Homo sapiens: one gene and its partners. The protein of the gene in region 2 purifies or fractionates together with the protein of the main gene of each other region. This does not show direct contact. Each region holds a gene or a part of one and is shown on either strand. Other genes may lie near its edges.

Evidence for each region. The genes of interacting proteins can lie anywhere in the genome.
Region 1: the proteins of HACL1 (region 2) and WDFY1 fractionate together in Homo sapiens (co-fractionation; one large-scale study listed by BioGRID). This does not show direct contact.
Region 3: the proteins of HACL1 (region 2) and PNPT1 fractionate together in Homo sapiens (co-fractionation; one large-scale study listed by BioGRID). This does not show direct contact.
Region 4: the proteins of HACL1 (region 2) and MST1R fractionate together in Homo sapiens (co-fractionation; one large-scale study listed by BioGRID). This does not show direct contact.

The regions. Positions count from the first base shown.
Region 1 is NC_000002.12:223,895,841-223,900,737, forward strand, and holds part of WDFY1 (WD repeat and FYVE domain-containing protein 1), read right to left. Parts: intron 3,231-4,897; coding exon 3,118-3,230; intron 1-3,117. UniProt on the Homo sapiens protein: Positively regulates TLR3- and TLR4-mediated signaling pathways by bridging the interaction between TLR3 or TLR4 and TICAM1.
Region 2 is NC_000003.12:15,590,644-15,595,916, reverse strand, and holds part of HACL1 (2-hydroxyacyl-CoA lyase 1), read left to right. Parts: intron 1-4,236; coding exon 4,237-4,317; intron 4,318-5,273. UniProt on the Homo sapiens protein: Peroxisomal 2-OH acyl-CoA lyase involved in the cleavage (C1 removal) reaction in the fatty acid alpha-oxydation in a thiamine pyrophosphate (TPP)-dependent manner.
Region 3 is NC_000002.12:55,690,050-55,695,416, reverse strand, and holds the start of PNPT1 (polyribonucleotide nucleotidyltransferase 1, mitochondrial precursor), read left to right. Parts: upstream 1-1,572; 5' UTR 1,573-1,593; coding exon 1,594-1,754; intron 1,755-5,367. UniProt on the Homo sapiens protein: RNA-binding protein implicated in numerous RNA metabolic processes. Catalyzes the phosphorolysis of single-stranded polyribonucleotides processively in the 3'-to-5' direction. Mitochondrial intermembrane factor with RNA-processing exoribonulease activity.
Region 4 is NC_000003.12:49,892,879-49,897,775, reverse strand, and holds part of MST1R (macrophage-stimulating protein receptor isoform 1 preproprotein), read left to right. Parts: intron 1-90; coding exon 91-256; intron 257-359; coding exon 360-496; intron 497-885; coding exon 886-1,047; intron 1,048-1,142; coding exon 1,143-1,236; intron 1,237-1,368; coding exon of another isoform or gene 1,369-1,371; coding exon 1,372-1,581; coding exon of another isoform or gene 1,582-1,656; exon of another isoform or gene 1,657-1,668; coding exon 1,669-1,815; coding exon of another isoform or gene 1,816-1,895; coding exon 1,896-2,061; intron 2,062-2,227; coding exon 2,228-2,329; intron 2,330-2,402; coding exon 2,403-2,609; intron 2,610-4,897. UniProt on the Homo sapiens protein: Receptor tyrosine kinase that transduces signals from the extracellular matrix into the cytoplasm by binding to MST1 ligand. Regulates many physiological processes including cell survival, migration and differentiation.

The sequences.
Region 1 (4,897 bases), on a different chromosome or scaffold from region 2:
GATTACAATTTTCAATTATGCATCAAACTACTTTGGGCCGGGCATGGTGACTCACACTTGTAATCCCAGCACTTTGGGAGGCCAAGGAGGGCGAATCACTTGAAGCCAGGAGTTCAAGACTAGGCCTGGCCAACATGGTGAAACCCTATCTCTCCAAAAAAACAAATTAGCCAGGCATGGTGGCAGGCGCCTGTAATCCCAGCTACTCGGGAGGCTAAGGTGGGAGAATTGCTTGAACCCAGGAGGTGGAAGTTGCAGTGAGCCAAGATAGCACCACTGCGCTCCAGCCTGGGTGACAGAGTGAGACTCTGTCTCAAAAAAAAAAAAAAAAAAAAAAAAAAAACTGCTTGTAATACAAAGATTTTTAAAGAAGTTTTTCGTTCTTCTGTGACAAAAATTACAAAGTAGCTTACATACAAAATGTTCAGAATGAAGAAAAAAATTGCTACTAATATTTAGTGACAAAAACCAGTAAAGTTTACTGTGTCCAACCTACACAAGATAAAAAATCTAGATTATTCTGGGTCTCTGGGACATGGCAGGTGTTTTACCCCAAGATGTCTATGTTTAAGCAAATTACATTAAGTACCACAGAAAAAAGTCTGTTGTACACTACATAATTATGCCAAGTAATTTATGTGAAAAATCTGAACTTCACATTTCATACTTTATATTGGCTAACTTATCAAATTTGAAACCCTTGGGGAAATCTTTCTTTCTACAGGTATATCTTTCAGTAGGTCCTTTCCTTGTTCATCGACTGCTGTTTGTCTAGAAGAAACATTAATCAACTTAGTAAAACTGAACCAGCCACACAAGCTAATAATAATTTTGGTAGGTATATAGAAAATTAATGATGCCATATTCAAAAGCAAACAGAAACTACTTTATCACATACACTTTCCAAAAACAGAACAAAAGTAGAAACAAATATTCTGCAAAGGCTTCAGGGGTTACTTTCACATGACTTTCGACCCTGTGTAATCTATGTGCCATCCATTTCAGTTAGAGGCTTAAGAGCAGATAAATACGGTCTTTCAGCATGAAAACCAGTACCCATTCTGGTAGTTACTAGAACCCATTCTGCCTTTAGCAACCCTGAAAAAACTGGCGAGCCTGGGGGTCATGAGAGAATTAGTCATAAACAGAAAGTGGTTTCTTCACGGGCCTCTGCTTTCCTGCCCAAAGCTATTTTAACTTGCTGTTCTCTTTTCTTCTTTTCCCCTACAGGGTCCTTGATTTGATATACTCCATTTCACCTAAATAGATTACATAGAAAGCATAGTGTACATTTATTATAACTTGTTACAACTGAAACGCTTACTATGGTCATAAATAAGTCCATCATTGATTCTTTCAGCAACTCCCCAGTTCTCCATAAACCAGATGGCCTCAAAGCTTGTACTTTGTGACATATATCAGAATGTGATCTTGTGATCTGTATGAAAACTGCAATCCATTACAGCTTAGCATCTGACATAGTTTAGACATGTGTCCCCTCTAAATTTCGCATATATATATATATATATATATATATATATATATATATATTTTTTAAGACGGAGTCTCTCTCTGTCACCCAGGTTGGAGTGCAATGGCATGATCTTGGCTCACTGCAACCTCTGCCTCCCGGGTTCAAGAGATTCTCCTGCCTCAGCCTCCCTGAGTAGCTGGGACTACAGGCACCTGCCAACGTCCAGCTAATGTTTTTTGTATTTTTAGTAGAGATGGGGTTTCGCCATGTTGCCAGGCTGGTCTCAAACTCCTGACCTCAAGTGATCTGCCCAACTCAGCCTCCCAAAGTGCTGGGATTACAGGTGTAAGCCAACGGGCCCAGCCTCTAAATTTCATGTTAAACTGTAATCCCCAATGTTGCAGGTGGGGCTTGGTAGTTGGCTCATGGGGGTGGATTTCTCACGAATGGTTTAGTGCCATCCCCTTGGTGCTCTCCTTGAGTCAGTAAATGAGCTCCCTTGAGATATGGTTGTTTAAAAGTGTGTGGCACCCCCACACCCCCACTCCTGCTTTTGTCATGTGATGTGCCTGTTCACACCTCACCTTCTGCTATGACTGTAAGCTTCCTAAGGCCCTCACCAGAAGCATGCCGGCACCATGCTTCCTGTACAGCCTGTAGATCCACGAACCAATTAAACCTCTTTTCTTTATAAATTACCCAGTCTTAGATATTTCTTTACTGCAATGCAAGAATGGCCCAATACAGCATCTAATGAAACCTCTTTATTACACATGTGTATGTGGCGAGTCACTCAATACAATCAATGGACTTTAAAAACCCCTCCACAGAGCTTCACCAACCCACTGCACTACAGAAATGAAATTCCACCCAGTAATTCTTTTCCCTCAGTCCCTACACAGGGTATGTTTCCCAAGCAGAGGCTGAACCAGCCCACACATTTCTTCTAATTGTATTTATCAGGTCTTGCTCAGGGGCTTAGAAACTGACAAATTTTTTTAAAGTAATAACAACAATTCTTCCAAAAGGTTTTTACCAGTTAGAAGTAATTTTAAAGGTCTTCCCAGCACAATAACTTATTTTATTTTTATTTCTATTTTTTTGAGACAGAGTCTCACTCTGTCACCCAGGCAGGAGTGTAGTGCTGTAATCTCGGCTCACTGCAACCTCTGCCCCCCAGGTTCAAGTGATTCTCCTGCCTCAGCCTTCCGAGTAGCTAGGGGTGGAATTACAGGTATGCGCCACCATGCCTGGCTAATTTTTGTATTCTTAGTAGAGAGGCAGTTTTGCTGTGTTGGCCAGGCTGGTCTCGAACTCCTGGCCTCAAGTGGTACACCTAATTCGGCCCCCAAAGTGCTGGGATTACAGGTGTGAACCAATGTGCCAGCCATAACTTAATTTAAAAAGGTAAGCAACGTAGAAAGTATTATCCACACAAGCAATTTAGAAGGGATTTCGACAATATGAAATGAACCCATCACCCCACCTTCACTTAGTTTTCACTCTAAATCCCATATCTGGCCAATCAAAATGAAATCTGACAGATCATGAGGAACACAGCATTCATGAATCCACATAGTAGAGAACTGAATTTGGATGTCCAAGTTAGGCAAAAAAAACTCTTGGGTGATAATATAGCCTACCTTCATGTCCTTTGAGGGTTGTGATGACTGAACACGTGTTCTGTTCAAGCTTCAGCAGGGTGATCTGCCCAGAATAATCACCAACGAAAGCATACTGAGTGTCAAAGTCATATCTGAGGAGAAGCAGTCAAGGATGTAGAACAGAAATCACCTGAAAGTCCTCTCATAAGAGAGATACCAGCATTAGTCAAAGTTAGTTTTCAAAGTTAGAAAACATGCATTTTAAAGAGAATAAGCATACACGTAAAACTATAACAAGAAAGGAAACACCCAACTGAAAAGCATGCAATATGTAAATATTGAAGGTAAAAATTAAAACAGCTGTTATTACTGAGAAAGTTTATATTCATTCATTCAACAGGAACTCATTGAGTGCCTGTTACTATATCAAGCAAGATCCCAGGAACTGGCAATAAAAAAAGAGCTGGTAGGGCAGACACACACGAAAACAAGTAGATATAATCAAGTACAATAAAGTGTCAAAGAGTAAAACTGATAACTACTGGGCTGGCTGCAGTGGCTCATGCCTGTAATCTCAGCACTTTGGGAGGCTGAGGCGGGCAGATCACTTGAGGTCAGGAGTTCAAGACCAACCTGGCCAACATGGTGAAACCCCGTCTCTACTAAAAACACAAAAAATTAGCTGGGCGTGGTGGCACACGCCTGTAATCCCAGTTACTCAGGAGGCTGAGACAAGAGAACAGCTTGAACCCAGGAGGCAGAGGCTGCAGTGAGCTGAGATGGTGCCACTGTACCACTCCAGCCTGGGTGACAGTGCAAGACTCTTTCTCAAAAAAAGAAAAAAAAAGGAAAGAAAAGAAAAAGAAATTGCTAACTACTGAAAACAGCAAGAAAGCTCTGAAACGTAATGGTTATTTATGAAATATCTCTGAAAATAATGTAAATCTGACAGTAAATACAAGACATGAATCCATGTTTCTTTTGGCCTAGAGAATTTAGCTATAAATGAAGAGGATGATTCACTTTAAATTACTGTGGATAGTTTAATAATCCAAAACGCAGTTATTTGTGGCGGTAGTACATTTAAATTTAGAAAATATATTAACTATTGGTCACAACTCATTACTTTCTCGATTTGTGGTCATAGATATTTGTGGAAAACCAGAAATTTATACACGACATGTTAACTACTATTTGTAATAGGAAAGCTATTTACAGTAGGATAACTATCACTCTTCCAAAACACGGGTCAAAAAGAGCACCGTAAACTAGGGCATGAACTGTGATTCTGTGTCATTTTCTACAAATCCATTTTGAGAGGCCTAGCACGTAACAAAAACGCTTATGTAGCACATACTATATCAGAGTATTTTTTGCTTGTTTGATCCTAAAGTATATGATACTATTTTAAATATCTCATGCTGTGCATTCATTTGTAGCAAACATTTTAAAGAAAGGCTTTCAATGGACAGAATTTTACTAAGCCAGACATTCAACTCTGAGAGAGAAACTACTGCGGGGTGTCTGCCTGTTGTTGATAACCTTGATCTTGCCATCACTAAGATACACAGCAGGCAGAGGTATCCTTAGGTAAGGGCGAGCTCTACATGAAGCAAATTCCATGTAGTAGCAGGAATTTTTTAGGCCGTGATTTTTAGCATTTTGGGGGATCCTGAGCCATCTTTGAGAGTATTATAAGGATTATGGGTCCTCTCCACACAAAAAAAAGCATTAAGCAAAAGTTTTGTGTAAAACTCCTTGTAGCCCATTTAGGAACAAACCCCAGGGCTATAAACCCTTAATGTTCAGTACATATACT
Region 2 (5,273 bases):
AAAATCGACTAGGCACGGTGGGTCACGCCTGTAATCCCAGCACTTTGGGAGGCTGAGGCAGGTGGATCACCTGAGGTCAGGAGTTTGAGACCAGCTTGGCCAACATGGTGAAACACCATCTCTACTAAAAATACAAAAATCACCCTGGTGTGGTGGCATGCGTCTGTAATCCCAGCTACTCGGGAGGCTGAGGCAGGAGAATCGGCTTGAACCCAGGAGGCGGAGGTTGCAGTGAGCTGAGATTGCGCCACTGCACTCCAGCCTGGGTGATAGAGTGAGACTCCGTCTCAAAAAAAAAAAAAAAAAAAAAAAGGAAAAAAGATGAAGAAAATCACCTATGATCTCAGAACTGTTAAGAATTGGTCATTTTCTTCCAGTTTTTTCCCTTATCTATGTATTTTTTAAGCAGAATTTGGACTCTCACAGGAATGTGTATCATACTTTTTTCACATATGTTAGTTTTAATACATTTTTTTATTTCCAAAAATGAAACTAGTAATTCAGTTGCTAAGAAATGCAAACTAATAAGATTCTCAAAGTCTAGACCTCACCAGAATAGTTTTTTTTCTGTGATAAGGAACTTGTGAATTTGAACCTGAAAAAAATAGGCCATCAAGTAACACTATTGTCACTGTTTTCTGCCGCTTTATTTACATATGACAAATATTTTAATCTTTTCATTTAGCTTGGAAAGCATTTAAATTATAGTTATTAATTAATGCCTTAATGTAAAAAATGCTAGAACAATGATTAAGAGAATGGTTAAAAGTTCATACTTTTTTTTTTTTGAGATGGAGTCTTGCACTGTTATCTGGGCTGGACAGTGCAGTGGTGCAATCTCGGCTCAGTGGAACCTCTGCCTCCTGGGTTCAAGCGATCCTCATGCCTCAGCTTCCCCAGTAGCTGGGATTACAGGCATGCACCACCACACCCAGCTAATTTTTGTATTTTAGTAGAGATGGGGTTTCACTATGTTGGCCAGGATGGTCTCTGTCTCTTGACCTCATGATCTGCTGGCCTTGGCCTCCCAAAGGGCTGGGATTACAGGCGTGAGCCACCATGCCCGGCCGAAAAGTTCATATTTAAAACATTTTTGCTGTTTGAATGAACTTCTGGAGCTGCACTGGCAAGTATAGTAGCCACGAGCCGTATGACTTGTTTACATTTAAATTAATTAAAATTAAATAACATTTAAATCATAGTTTATCAGTTTGTAGTAGCCACATTTCAAGTGCTCAGTAACCATGTCAGTAGTGGCTACCGTATCATACTGCAAATGCAGAACATTTCTATTACTATACAAAGTTCTGTTGGATAGTACTGTTCTAGAAGTTTAGTTTACTTGGTGGTAATTACTTATTTTCAAGTCTGTCTTAAACAGAAATTTTTAAGAAATTATTTTATAAGTGTAAAATGGTGAACTGAATTATATTGAGATACCTTTTTCCCGAGTGGTTTAAGCTTAGAAAGTCACACTGAAGGGTAAAACATTCAAGTTCAATATTTATTTATTTGGAGTCTCACTCTGTCGTCTCCATGCTGGAGTGCAGTGGCACCATCTCGGCTCACTGCAAACTCCACCTCCCAGGTTCCAGCGATTCTCCTGCCTCAGCCTCCCAAGTAGCTGGCACTACAGGTGTGCACCACCATACTCAGCTAGTTTTTATATTTTTTAGAGACAGGGTTTCATCATGTTGCCCAGGCTGGTCTTGAACTCCTAGACTCAAGTGATCCATCTGCCTCAGCCTCTCAAGATGCTGGGATTACAGACGTCAGCCACCGTGCTCAGCCTCAAATTCAGTTTTAAAAGATTTTGGGGACCAGGCGCGGTGGCTCATGCCTGTAATCCCAGCACTTTGGGAGGCCGAGGCGGGTGGATCACCTGAGGCCAGGAGTTGGAGACAAGCCTGGCCAAACATGGTGAAACCCCGTCTCTACTAAAAATACAAAAATTAGCCGGGTGTGGTGGCACATGCCTGTAATCCCAGCTACTTGGGAGGCTGAGGCAGGAGAATCACTTGAATCCGGGAGGCGGAGGTTGCAGTGAGCCGAGATCACACCATTGCACTGCAGCCTGGGGAACAAGAACGAGACTTCGTCTCAAAAAAAAAAAAAAAAAAGACAAAAAAAAAAACACAAAACATTTTGGGCAGAGCACTGCATTCAGAATTACTTTCCTATCAAAGATCAGTCGACGTTATATTTATTTGTTAAGAAATGAAAAAAAAACCTTTTTTCATACAAAAATGAACTCAGCAGTCAAAAATTTGCTTCTGTATACCATTAACTTGATTTAGTCCAGATGTAGTCCAGATCAAAATAAGTGGTTAGAGACATAAGGTGTGAAAATGATAGGTACCTTATTTCTCACAAGAAATCCGATATCTTTCTTTTTTTGGGCCAGGCATGCTGGCTTATGCCTGTAATCCCAGCACTTTGGGAGGCCAAGGCAGGCAGATTGCTTGAGCCCAGGAGTTCAAGACCAGCCTGGGCAACATGGTGAAACCCCATCTCTACCAAAAAAAAATACAAAAAATTAGCCGGGTGTGGTGGCATCTGCCTGTAGTCCCGGTTACTTGGGAGGCTGTGGTGGGAAGATCACCTGAGCTTAGGAGGTTGAGGCTGCAGTGAGCCCTGATCATGCCACTGCACTCCAGCCTGAGCAACAGAGTGAGATGCTATCTCAAAAAAAAAGTGTGTATATATATACACACACGCACATATATATGTGTGTATATATACACACATATATACGTATGTGTGTATGTGTGTATATATACATATATACGTATGTGTGTGTATATATACACACACATATATGTATATGTGTGTGTATATATACACTTTTTTTGAGATAGCATCTCACTCTTGCCCAGAGTATATATGTACATATGCGTACATGTGTATACACGCACACATGTGCGTACATGTGTATACACGCACACATGTGCGTACATGTGTATACACGCACACATGTGCGTACATGTGTATACACGCACACATGTGCGTACATGTGTATACACGCACACATGTGCGTACATGTGTATACACGCACACATGTGCGTACATGTGTATACACGCACACATGTGCGTACATGTGTATACACGCACACATGTGCGTACATGTGTATACACGCACACATGTGCGTACATGTGTATACACGCACACATGTGCGTACATGTGTATACACGCACACATGTGCGTACATGTGTATACACGCACACATGTGCGTACATGTGTATACACGCACACATGTGCGTACATGTGTATACACGCACACATGTGCGTACATGTGTATACACGCACACATGTGCGTACATGTGTATACACGCACACATGTGCGTACATGTGTATACACGCACACATGTGCGTACATGTGTATACATGTGTATATGTATACAAGTGTATATACAAGTGTATATGTATACAAGTGTATGTATACGTGTGTGTATGTATACGTGTGTGTATGTATACGTGTGTCTACATGCATACGTGTGTGTATACGTGTGTCTACATGTATACACGTGTGTGTATACGTGTGTCTGTATGTATACATATATATAGAGTATACTCTGGTGCCCAGAGTATATATACATATATGTATACATATATATACGTATGTATACATATACACGTATGTATACGTATATATGGATCCATATATACACGTATGTATACGTATATACGTATGTATACATATATACACGCATGTATACATATATACGTATGTATACATATATACATGCATGTATACGTATATACGTATGTATACATATATACACGTATGTATACGTATATAGTGTGTATATATACGTATATAGTGTGTGTATATATACGTATACGTATATACGTATATATACGTATATAGTGTGTGTATATATACGTATGTAGTGTGTGTATATATACGTATATAGTATATACTATAGGTATATAGTGTGTATATATATACACTATGTATATAGTGTGTGTATATATACACGTATATACGTATATATACACTATATACATATATAGTGTATACACTATATACGTATATGTGTGTATGTATATATATCGCGATATATATATATCGCCTTGTTTTTTAATTAAAAATATTCTAATAATTGTTTTATCAGTTATAGTAAAGACTTGTATGTCCTTCCTTTGAAGTCCAAGATTGCCATGTTTCACACTAAAGTGTTATGAATCAGTTGTTACATTTGACCTGATTTTAATAAATTCTGTTTTGCTTTTAGGCCAGGAGTCTGCCTTGTTGTTTCTGGCCCAGGTCTCATCCATGCCTTGGGCGGTATGGCAAATGCAAACATGAACTGCTGGTAATGACATTATTATTACTGAAAACATTTTCTTAAAAAGGTCACTGCAGGATTTTACTGAGTAGAGCTAATGCTGATCTAGGGTAGAAAGACTTGGAAAAAAAAAACCCCTTCAATTCTTAGAAACTGAAAGTAGAGTTAGTTACCGGGGAGGGAATGAGGAGGAGGAGGGGGAATAGGGAGATAGGTCAAAGGGTACAAAGTTTCAGTCAAGTACGATAAAGCCTGGAGATCTAATGTACAACATGAAAGCCATAGTTAATAATATTGTGTATTGTAAATTTGCAAAGAGAGTAAATTTTAGGTACTTTTACCAAAAAAAGTGACTATTTCTACAATATCTTAGGAAAAAAAGTAACATGAATATGTTAATTTGCTTGACTGTAGTAATCATTTCACTATATGTACATCAAAATATCATATGGTATACCTTAAATAGATATAACTTAAAAAAGAGTATTAGGAAGAAAATTCAAAGCACCAGTAATTTAGTTACTTAGAGATAAACACTTTCTTTTTTTGAGACGGAGTCTCTCTGTCGCCCAGGCTGGAGTGCAGTGGTGCAATCTTGGCACACCACAACCTCTGCCTCCCAGGTTCAAGTGATTCTCCTGCGTCAGCCTCCCAAGTAGCTGGGATTACAGGCCCCTGCCACCACGCCCGGCTAATTTTTGTATTTTTAGTAGAGAAGAGGTTTCACCATGCTGGCCAGGCTGGTCTCAAACTCCTGACCTCAGGTGATCCACCTGCCTTGGCTTCCCAAAGTGCTGGGATTACAGGCATGAGCCACCGCACCCAGCTGCCATAAACACTTTTAACATTTTAGAGTTCCTAATATGTGTGTGTATGTGTGAACGTATGTGTAGTTCTATTTACTTTAAGTGAAGAATTATTTTTTTAAAGATCCAAGCTCAGTGTGTAAAATGTGGCTAATTTTTCACCTTGTTTTGCATAGG
Region 3 (5,367 bases), on a different chromosome or scaffold from region 2:
ATAGCTCATGAAAGCAAGGTGTCAGAAAACTGCTTTGCCAGCAAATCATTTGTCTGTTTAGAGCTCATCATTCTTTTTTCTTTTTTAAATCATCACGGATCAACATTTTTAATTTTTTTTTTTTTTTTTTTTTTTTTTAGATGGAGTCTCGGTCTGGAGTGCAGTGGCGCGATCTCGGCTCACTGCAACCTCCGCCTCCTGGATTCAAGCGATTCTCATGCCTCAGCCTCTGGAGTAGCTGGGATTACAGGCACGCGCCACCACACCGAGCTAATTTTTGTATTTTTAGTAGAGACGCGGTTTCAGCATGTTGGCCAGGATGCCCTGGGTCTCTTGACCTCGTGATCCACCCGCCTCTGCCTCCCAGCGTGCTGGGATTACAGGCATGAGCCACTGCGCCCGGACTTTTTTTTTTTTTTTTTTTTTTTTTTTTTTTGAGACCGAGTTTCACTCTTGTTGCAATGACGCGATCTCGGCTCACTGCAACCTCCGCCTCCCGGGTTCAAGCGATTCCCCTGCCTCAGCCTCCCGAGTAGCTGGGATTACAGGCATAAGCCACCATGCCCGGCTAGTTTTGTATTTTTAGTAGAGACGGGGTTTCTCTGTGTTGGTCAGGCTGGTCTCGAACTCAGGTGATCCGCCCGCCTCGGCCTCCCAAAGTGCTGGGATTACAGGCGTGAGCCACAGCGTCCAGCCAACGTTTTTAATTCTTAAAACTGTGTTTGAATGAGTGTTGGGTTTTTGTTGTTTGGTTTTCTTTGGGGTAAGGCGGTTATCACCTTACACAAAAAATTTACATCATAATATGAAAATGCCCATTGGTTCATTCAAGGAAAAACATAAAGAATTTCTAACAGAATGGATTAATGGGGTGGAAGAAATTTATCCATTCTCTAAAAATTTTTCAAATCCCAAAAACTTTTTTTTTTCATTTTACAAAATATTTACTTCAAACAGTAGCTGGCATTTTGCATTTAAGAGTTCGACCAAAAGGGACAGAAATATAAATTGCTAATTATTAGCAATGGAAATGAAAATGAATCAGAAGTGACAATAAAGATTTCTAAAATTACAAGTCGATGAAAAATGAATTTACTGTAAATTGGTTAACACAAATCGCTGTAGTAACATATCTGCTATGTGAAATTTTTAAAATAAAAACCAGGGCGGAGAAGGGGAGAAGGAGATCTCTTTCCAAGGCCCACCACCCAAATTCTAATTCTTAGTTCACAGATCCAAATAATAATAATGTGTTGTTCTATGACTTCTAGTATTAAAAGTAAATATAAATTTACTCTGCATATTAAACATTTACATTATTCTAGGACTTCTCCTTTAAATTACGATAGTACACACACAAAAACCTTATTTATCTAATTGCCTTTCGTTGGCACATAAAGACAAAGATCGTTTGCAACATAATCGCGTTCTGATAGGTTTGACCCTCTCTAGTCTTCGTAGAAGGTGGCCAAGGTTTCCGTTACCCCGGCGTCCCTCGGGCACCGCGGAAACGAAACTCCATCAGGCTCCGCCCCACGGTCTGCGGAGTGAGCCAATCAGGGCACAGCCTGCGTTGACCGCGTGCCGGGTGTCATGGCGGCCTGCAGGTACTGCTGCTCGTGCCTCCGGCTCCGGCCCCTGAGCGATGGTCCTTTCCTTCTGCCACGGCGGGATCGGGCACTCACCCAGTTGCAAGTGCGAGCACTATGGAGTAGCGCAGGGTCTCGAGCTGTGGCCGTGGACTTAGGCAACAGGTAAGGAGTGACGTGCGTTCACTGTATTGTCATAAGGTGTCTTGTCCAGCCAGCTTGAGCGTATTCATCTCCCAGGGTAGAAACCCGGTATCCCAGCTCTATTTAATCTCTCCTTACCCTAAACCTAAATTCCAAATTTCCCTTTCCGGGTTTGGAATGTGTCTCCTCGGACCCTCCTTCCCGCGCTATGTCGTTCTCTCTGTTGGTGTGTGCCGGGCTTCTTTGCTCCATCCGACTCTGTCCGTCCACCTGACTTCCGATCTCTTTACTTTCCGGGACCACTGGGCTCTTAAGTGGGAAACATTCCACCTAGGAATAACGAGTTGACGTGGGTGAGACGAGGCCCCCCGGGATGCTGGCCCGGACCCTGGAAGCTGGGGCTCTGATGCCCCTCGAGCTGGGACACAGACCTCAGCAGAGGCTCCGGGTGGCTAGTGCACCACGGGTCCCCCACGTCCCACTCCTCGGGCTCCTTCAGCCTCCTCTTCACCAGGAGCCTACCTTGTAGAAGTTGAACACCAGGTCCAGTTCACAGACATTGTGGAAATATTCGTTTAAGACCTGGGAGAGGAAGGCAGAGATGGTAAGAGATGGACAGGGAGAGAGCCACACACGCACAGAGATGGGAACAAGGTCATCAGAAAGAGACAGCAAAAAAAAGAGACCAAGAGGGAGGCAGGGGAGAGAGAGAGACAGTGACAGGGAGAGAGGCAAGGAGACACACAGAGAGAAACAAAAGCAAAGATCGATGCAAAGAGATGGCAAAAGGTCAGGCGCTCACACCTGTAATCCCAGCACTTTGGGAGGCTAAGACGGAAGGATGACTTGAAGTTAGGAGTACAAGATATCATGTCATCCAATCTAATTGATTGCCTAAAGTGTGACCACTATGACCCTGGGTTAGGAGGAAAAGGAAAAGTCAGTTTTTTGAACGCCAGTTATATGATCCTCGCAATCTTTTTAAACCTGTCGTAAAGGTACTATTACCCTCATTTTATAGTTAAGACTACAGAGGCTCAAAAAAGGTTAGATAACTTTCTAAGAGTCTATAAAAAAGTTAGTATTATGGGACTAGGTGGTTTTTGAATTTCTGTTTTTTGCTTACAAAGCCCATACTTTTTTTTAGGGGACCGCTTTTTAAAAAAAAAGTTTGCTTTAATCGTTCTTAGAATAAATGGAATTGCTAATGCAAACTTCATATATCTAAATTTTTTACGTGTACTTTGAAAAAATTTGGACCCCAGTTCATACAAAAAGCAAAAAAATCATTTTGAATCCAGGTCTCGCACTCTAACTTTGATAAGTAGTTGACATTGAACAGGTTAATTCACCATTTTCTTGTGCAAAGTGTGGAGAGTGGATTCCATCAAGGGTCTGCAAACTTTTCTATAAAGGACCAGATAATATATATATTAGGCTTTTTGGGGTACACACTGTGTGTATGTGTTTACAAACCCTTTAGAAATATTTTAAAAAACGGCCGAGCACAGTGGCTAACACCTGTAATCCGAGCACTTTGGGAGGCTGAGGTGGGTGGATCTCCTGAGGTCAGGAGTTCGAGACCAGCCTGGCTACAATGGTGAAACCCCGTCTTTACTAAAAATACAAAATTAGCTGGGCGTGGTGGCAAGCACCTGTAATTCCATTTACCTGGGAGGCTGAGGCAGGAGAATCGGTTGAACCCAGGAGGCAGAGGTTGCAGTGGCAGAGATCGTGCCATTGCACTCCAGCCTGGGTGATAAGAGTGAAACTTTTGTCTCAAAAAAAAAAAAAAAAAAAAAAAATATATATATATATATATATATATATATATAAACATTTTTAATTGAAGAGTAATATAGAAATAGGCCACAAGCTGTAGTTTGGTCACCCCTAGACTAGGTTATCTCTAAGGCTTATTCCACTCCCAGCATTCATTAATTCTGATTTTTGAGGGAAGTGGACATCTCTTCCATTCTTCAAGGACTACACATGCTTCAAAGAAATGCCCAGAACATTTCATTCAACAGACACATACTGTGAGATAGGCATTAGATACTGAAAACAAGATGCAGCTGCTGCCCTCCATATTTTCCATAAATAATCTACTTTGACTCTTTCATTTATTAATCAACCTGTTCCTCTTTTGTAGGTAGTTCTTTTTAAACTCGTGTCATGTGTTGAAATAACTAGACTAATAAAATATCATACCTGCTGGATAAATTCTTTCATTTTTGTCTTGTTTGCCATTGGCAACATTTATTGAGTGACTACTATGTACCAGGCACATTATATTTGTTATCATATATATTCTTTACTGCATTCTGGAAGATTATATAATTATTGTAGGTGTTTTTCAGATAGTATATTTAATGCTTACAGTAACCTTGGAGGCAGGTGTTTAATTTTCATTTCAGCAAGCTTTTATTGAGCATCTACTATGTATCAAATCACTGAGGATATTCAACAGAATATGCCACAGTGGGCAAAATGCTAAGGCAGTAGCCCCGTTAGTAGAGTAGAACTGTAGCTTTCACAGTTTTTCTTCCCTGTGTTTTGGGCCCACTTCTGTCTAGTTAAAGATCCTCCACTCCCCTTCACAGAGATCACTTAGGTATTCAGAATTTACATTGGTAGACAGAATGCCAGTTCCTGGTAAGTTTTGAGAAGTACTGGTGGCATGTTACTCAGGGTTAAACAAAATTTCAAGATGTCAGATTTACATTTGCCTCATGAAACCATTACTTAATACTGATTTCAGCTATAGGTTGTTGCAGGTCTGTGATACTACACAGTGTGACTGGTTTTGAGTATCTCATTCCTTCCATCTACTCAACATACTAATCCAGCATCAGCCTCTCTGTACCTCATTCCCATTAGTCACAGGAGACCCATTTTATTGTAGGCTTTCATCATTATAACATCTGTGTTGAATAAATAGAAACCCAACTAGAATTTCTCAAATATTCCCTGATTTTAAAAAAAAACTAATATTTCAGAGTCAAGAATTTGATACTACAAAATCATTGTATTTATTAACATATATTAAATGTACATACTTTGTTCTGACTTTCAAACTTAACAAAATGAGTCTAACTGAATAGATAAATATGCTTTTCATTAACTCAGGCTTCTGGCAAAGGTATTTAACAGGTGAAAATATTAAGGGTTGTTCCTTCATCTCCTTGGTATGTGAAAGACAGAATAATCTTACTTGGGGTAGGGCATTGGGCCTGTCTACATGCTTGTGTTTGGTTTGTGCATTTTCAGCACCAGACTATGATAGAATGTTGCCGAAACTGAGTTCATGTGACACAACATCTTTCTCTTTCTCTGTATCTTCAGGGGTCACTGACTTGGTTTCATCTCAAAACACCTTTTGATGAATCTTGAGCTCTTTGACAAGTTTTGCTGGTCTGTTTCAAGACATCAGTAACCTCTTTTTGCATTCTCTGCTGAAACTAGGGAATAAGGCTAATAGTGCTGCCTATTTCATGTATATAAGACACCTTTATTAAGATATAATTCACATACCATACAGTTAATTTAAAGTGTACAACTCGTCTGGGAGCAGTGGCTTATATTTGTAATCCTAGCACTTTGAGAGGCCAAGGCAGGAGGATTGCTTGAGTCC
Region 4 (4,897 bases), about 34 Mb from region 2:
TGGCTCAGAGGAGCCCTGTGGCTTGTGGCAGGCATGCATCTAGGCCTGTGTAATTCCTGGCTGACCTCAGGGGTTCCCCTGGTGCCCCAGACCAGTGCCCCGGAAAGACTTTGTAGAGGAGTTTGAGTGTGAACTGGAGCCCTTGGGCACCCAGGCAGTGGGGCCTACCAACGTCAGCCTCACCGTGACTAACATGCCACCGGGCAAGCACTTCCGGGTAGACGGCACCTCCGTGCTGAGAGGCTTCTCTTTCATGGTGAGGCTACCTTGCCCTGTCTGTGCCCTTGGCCAGTGCATGGTACGGGAAGGGAGGGGCTTGGAGTGGAGGACCTGCCTAAGCCACCTCTATGTCCTCTTAGGAGCCAGTGCTGATAGCAGTGCAACCCCTCTTTGGCCCACGGGCAGGAGGCACCTGTCTCACTCTTGAAGGCCAGAGTCTGTCTGTAGGCACCAGCCGGGCTGTGCTGGTCAATGGGACTGAGTGTCTGCTAGCACGGTAAGTACCACCAGGCAGGCATGGGAGGCCGCAGGGTTCTATCCAGGTGGGGACCCGGATTCTGTCAGGATGGAGGGAAGAGTGCTTGTTACATGGTCAGTGTGGTGTGGAGAGCAGGTCCAGGAAGAAAAGACTACTGCCCTCTTCAGCCCAGAGGCAAGAGAGCCCATCACAGAGTCCAATGGCTCCAGCCAAGGCTGTGGGGAACCTGTTCCCTCCTTACCCTCTTGGGATGTCTTCCTGGGACCACCTTATTTTCAGACAGACCATGGAGTGGGGCAGGTGGGAGAGATAACAGACGAACTGGGAGAGGTCAACAGGCCCCTGGAAGAAGTGGGCCTGGCCATCACAAAGAGGGTAACCTTGAGCCCAATCTCTTGTTCCTGTAGGGTCAGTGAGGGGCAGCTTTTATGTGCCACACCCCCTGGGGCCACGGTGGCCAGTGTCCCCCTTAGCCTGCAGGTGGGGGGTGCCCAGGTACCTGGTTCCTGGACCTTCCAGTACAGAGAAGACCCTGTCGTGCTAAGCATCAGCCCCAACTGTGGCTACATGTAAGCACTGCCTCTTTGCCCACTCTGGCCTCTGGGGAATGAGAGAGCCAGCTTTGGAGAACACCCAAAGCCTACCACCCTACCCTCTTCCACAGCAACTCCCACATCACCATCTGTGGCCAGCATCTAACTTCAGCATGGCACTTAGTGCTGTCATTCCATGACGGGCTTAGGGCAGTGGAAAGCAGGGTGAGTGAGTGCTGGCCAGGAGGGAGGAAGGCTGGATGAGTTCCCTGAGCTGCAGCCCAACCTCGTGCTGGGCTGAGGCGAGGAGCAATCACAGGTGGGGTTCCTGGCTAATCACTCTCATATTGGTCCCAGCAGTGTGAGAGGCAGCTTCCAGAGCAGCAGCTGTGCCGCCTTCCTGAATATGTGGTCCGAGACCCCCAGGGATGGGTGGCAGGGAATCTGAGTGCCCGAGGGGATGGAGCTGCTGGCTTTACACTGCCTGGCTTTCGCTTCCTACCCCCACCCCATCCACCCAGTGCCAACCTAGTTCCACTGAAGCCTGAGGAGCATGCCATTAAGTTTGAGGTAAGTGTAAGGGATAGGGGCAGGGACAGTTGGGGATCTGAAAGTAGGGGCCAGCCTACTGGCTGGTCCTCATGACCCTCTCTGCAGTATATTGGGCTGGGCGCTGTGGCTGACTGTGTGGGTATCAACGTGACCGTGGGTGGTGAGAGCTGCCAGCACGAGTTCCGGGGGGACATGGTTGTCTGCCCCCTGCCCCCATCCCTGCAGCTTGGCCAGGATGGTGCCCCATTGCAGGTAGGCAGCCCAGCTGGACCTCCCTGGGAAACACGGGCAGAGGGCCTACAGGCTGGGCCTGAGTTGCCACCTGCCCCCAGGTCTGCGTAGATGGTGAATGTCATATCCTGGGTAGAGTGGTGCGGCCAGGGCCAGATGGGGTCCCACAGAGCACGCTCCTTGGTATCCTGCTGCCTTTGCTGCTGCTTGTGGCTGCACTGGCGACTGCACTGGTCTTCAGCTACTGGTGGCGGAGGAAGCAGCTAGGTGAGTTCTCTGCTCCTACCTTTAATCAGCCCCTACCCCCAACCAATGGCATCTTCAAGTCCCTACATCCTCTCTCTGCCCAGGACTTAGGGATCTAAGTCCTCCCCAGAGGGGTCGGCCCCTAGGAGCTTGGAAAGCCAAGCCACCAAGGATTCTCTTTCCACAGTTCTTCCTCCCAACCTGAATGACCTGGCATCCCTGGACCAGACTGCTGGAGCCACACCCCTGCCTATTCTGTACTCGGGCTCTGACTACAGAAGTGGCCTTGGTGAGATAGTGGAGGCATGAGAAGCTAAAGCCACCCCCTGTCCCTACAAGCTCCTCATTCCCTCTCCCCACAGCACTCCCTGCCATTGATGGTCTGGATTCCACCACTTGTGTCCATGGAGCATCCTTCTCCGATAGTGAAGATGAATCCTGTGTGCCACTGCTGCGGAAAGAGTCCATCCAGCTAAGGGACCTGGACTCTGCGCTCTTGGCTGAGGTCAAGGATGTGCTGATTCCCCATGAGCGGGTGGTCACCCACAGTGACCGAGTCATTGGCAAAGGTGTGGGGGCCAGGTGGGGCTGGGGCAGAGATGGAGTCTCAAGATGACATAGGCTAGGCCAGGCGTGGTGGCTCACTCCTGTAATCCCAGCACTTTGGGAGGCCGAGGCGGGCAGATCATGAGGTCAGGAGATCGAGACCGTCCTGGCTAACACAGTGAAACCCCGTCTCTACTAAAAATACAAAAAAATATTAGCCAGCCATGGTGGCAGGCGCCTGTAGTCCCAGCTACTTGGGAGGCTGAGGCAGGAGAATGGCATGAACTCGGGAGGCGGAGCTTGCAGTGAGCCAAGATTGCACCACTGCACTCCAGCCTGGGCGACAGAGCGAGACTCCTTCTCAAAAAAAAAAAAAATGACATGGGCTAAAGGGACAGTTGGAACAGATACTGCTCTAACCTTCTCACCAACCTGTGTGACCTTGGGTATACCACTTAACCTCTCTGAGCCTCCATTTGCTCATCTGTAAAATGGGGATGAGAAAAGTTCTGTCTTCAGTGGGTTCTGGTGTGGATCAATCAGGCATAGGAAGATTGTAGCCTCTGCCATCAAGTGGCTGCTGTTTGTTTTTGGTTTTATTTATGGTTTTGTTTTTGTTTTTGTGACAGGGTCTCACTCTGTTACCCAGGCTGGAGTGCAATGGCACAATCATGGCTCACTGCAGCCTCGACCTCCCCAGCCTCAGGTGATCCTCCTGCCTCAGCCTCCTGAGTAGCTGGGATTACAATCATGCACCACCATGCCTGGCTAATTTTTTGTTTATTTTTTGTAGAGATGGGCCTCGAATCATGTTGTCCAGGCTGGCCTCGAACTCCTGGACTCAAGCAATCTGCCTGCCTAACCTTCCCAAAGTGCTGGGATTACAGGCATGAGCCACCGAACCCAGCCTGTTTTATTATATTTATTTTATTTTATTTTTATTTTTATTCTATTTTATTATTATTATTTTTTTTGAGACAGAATTTCACTCTTGTTGCCCAGGCTGGAGTGCAATGGCGCGATCTCGGCTCATTGCAACCTCCTCCTCCCGGGTTCAAGTGATTCTCCTGTCTCAGCTTCCTGAGTAGCTAGGATTACAGGCGCCTGCCACAACACCCGGCTAATTTTTAGTATTTTTGGTAGAGATAGGATTTCACCATGTTGGCCAGGCCGGTCTCGAACTCCTGACCTCAGGTGATCCGCCCGCCTCAGCCTCCCAAAGTGCTAGGATTACAGGCATGAGCCACTGCCCCCAGCCTATTTTATTTTATTTTATTTTTTTTTTTTTTTTGAGAGGGAGTCTCACTCTTTCACCCAGGCTGGAGTGCAGTGGCGCGATCTCGACTCACTGCAAGCTCCGCCTCCCAGGTTCATGCCATTCTCCTGCCTCAGCCTCCCAAGTAGCTGGGACTACAGGCGCCTGCCACCGTGCCCGGCTAATTTTTTGTATTTTTAGTAGAGATGGGGTTTCACCGTGTTAGCCAGGATGGTCTCGATCTCCTGACCTCATGATCCACCCGCCTCAGCCTCCCAAAGTGCTGGGATTACAGGTGTGAGCCACCGCGCCCGGCCTATTTTATTTTTTCAAGATGGAGTCTTGCTCTATCACCCAGGCTGGAGTGCAGTGGTGCAATCTTGGCTCACTGCAACCTCCCCCTCCCAGGTTCAAGCAATTCTCCTGCCTCACCCTCCCTAGTAGCTGGGATTACAGGCGCCCGCCACCACACCTGGCTAATTTTTGTATTTTTAGTAGAGATGGGGTTTCACCATGTTGGCCAGGCTGGTCTCAAACTCCTAACCTCAGGTGATCTGCCTGCCTTGATCTCCCAAAGTGCTGGGATTACAGGCGTGAGCCACTGTATCCAGCCTATTTATTTATTTATTTATTTATTTATTTATTTATTTATTTTTGAGACAGAACCTCACTCTGTCACCCAGGCTGGAGTGCAGTGGCATGATCTCAGCTCACTGCAACCTCTGCCTCCCGGATTCAAGTGATTCTCCTGCCTCAGCCTCCTAAGTAGCTGGGATTACAGACGTGCACCACCAAGCCCGTCTAATTTTTGTATTTTTAGTAGAAATGGAGTTTCATCATGTTGGCCAGGCTGGTCTCAAACTCCCGACCTCAGGTGATCCGCCCGCCTCGGCCTCCCGAAGTGCTGGGATTACAGGCGTGAGCCATCGCACCCGACCCTGCTTTATTTACTTATTTATTTATTTTTATTTTTTTGAGACAGAGTCTCACTCTATTGCCCAGGCTGGAGTGCAGTAGTGCAATCTCGGCTCACTGCAACCTCTGCCTCCTGGATTC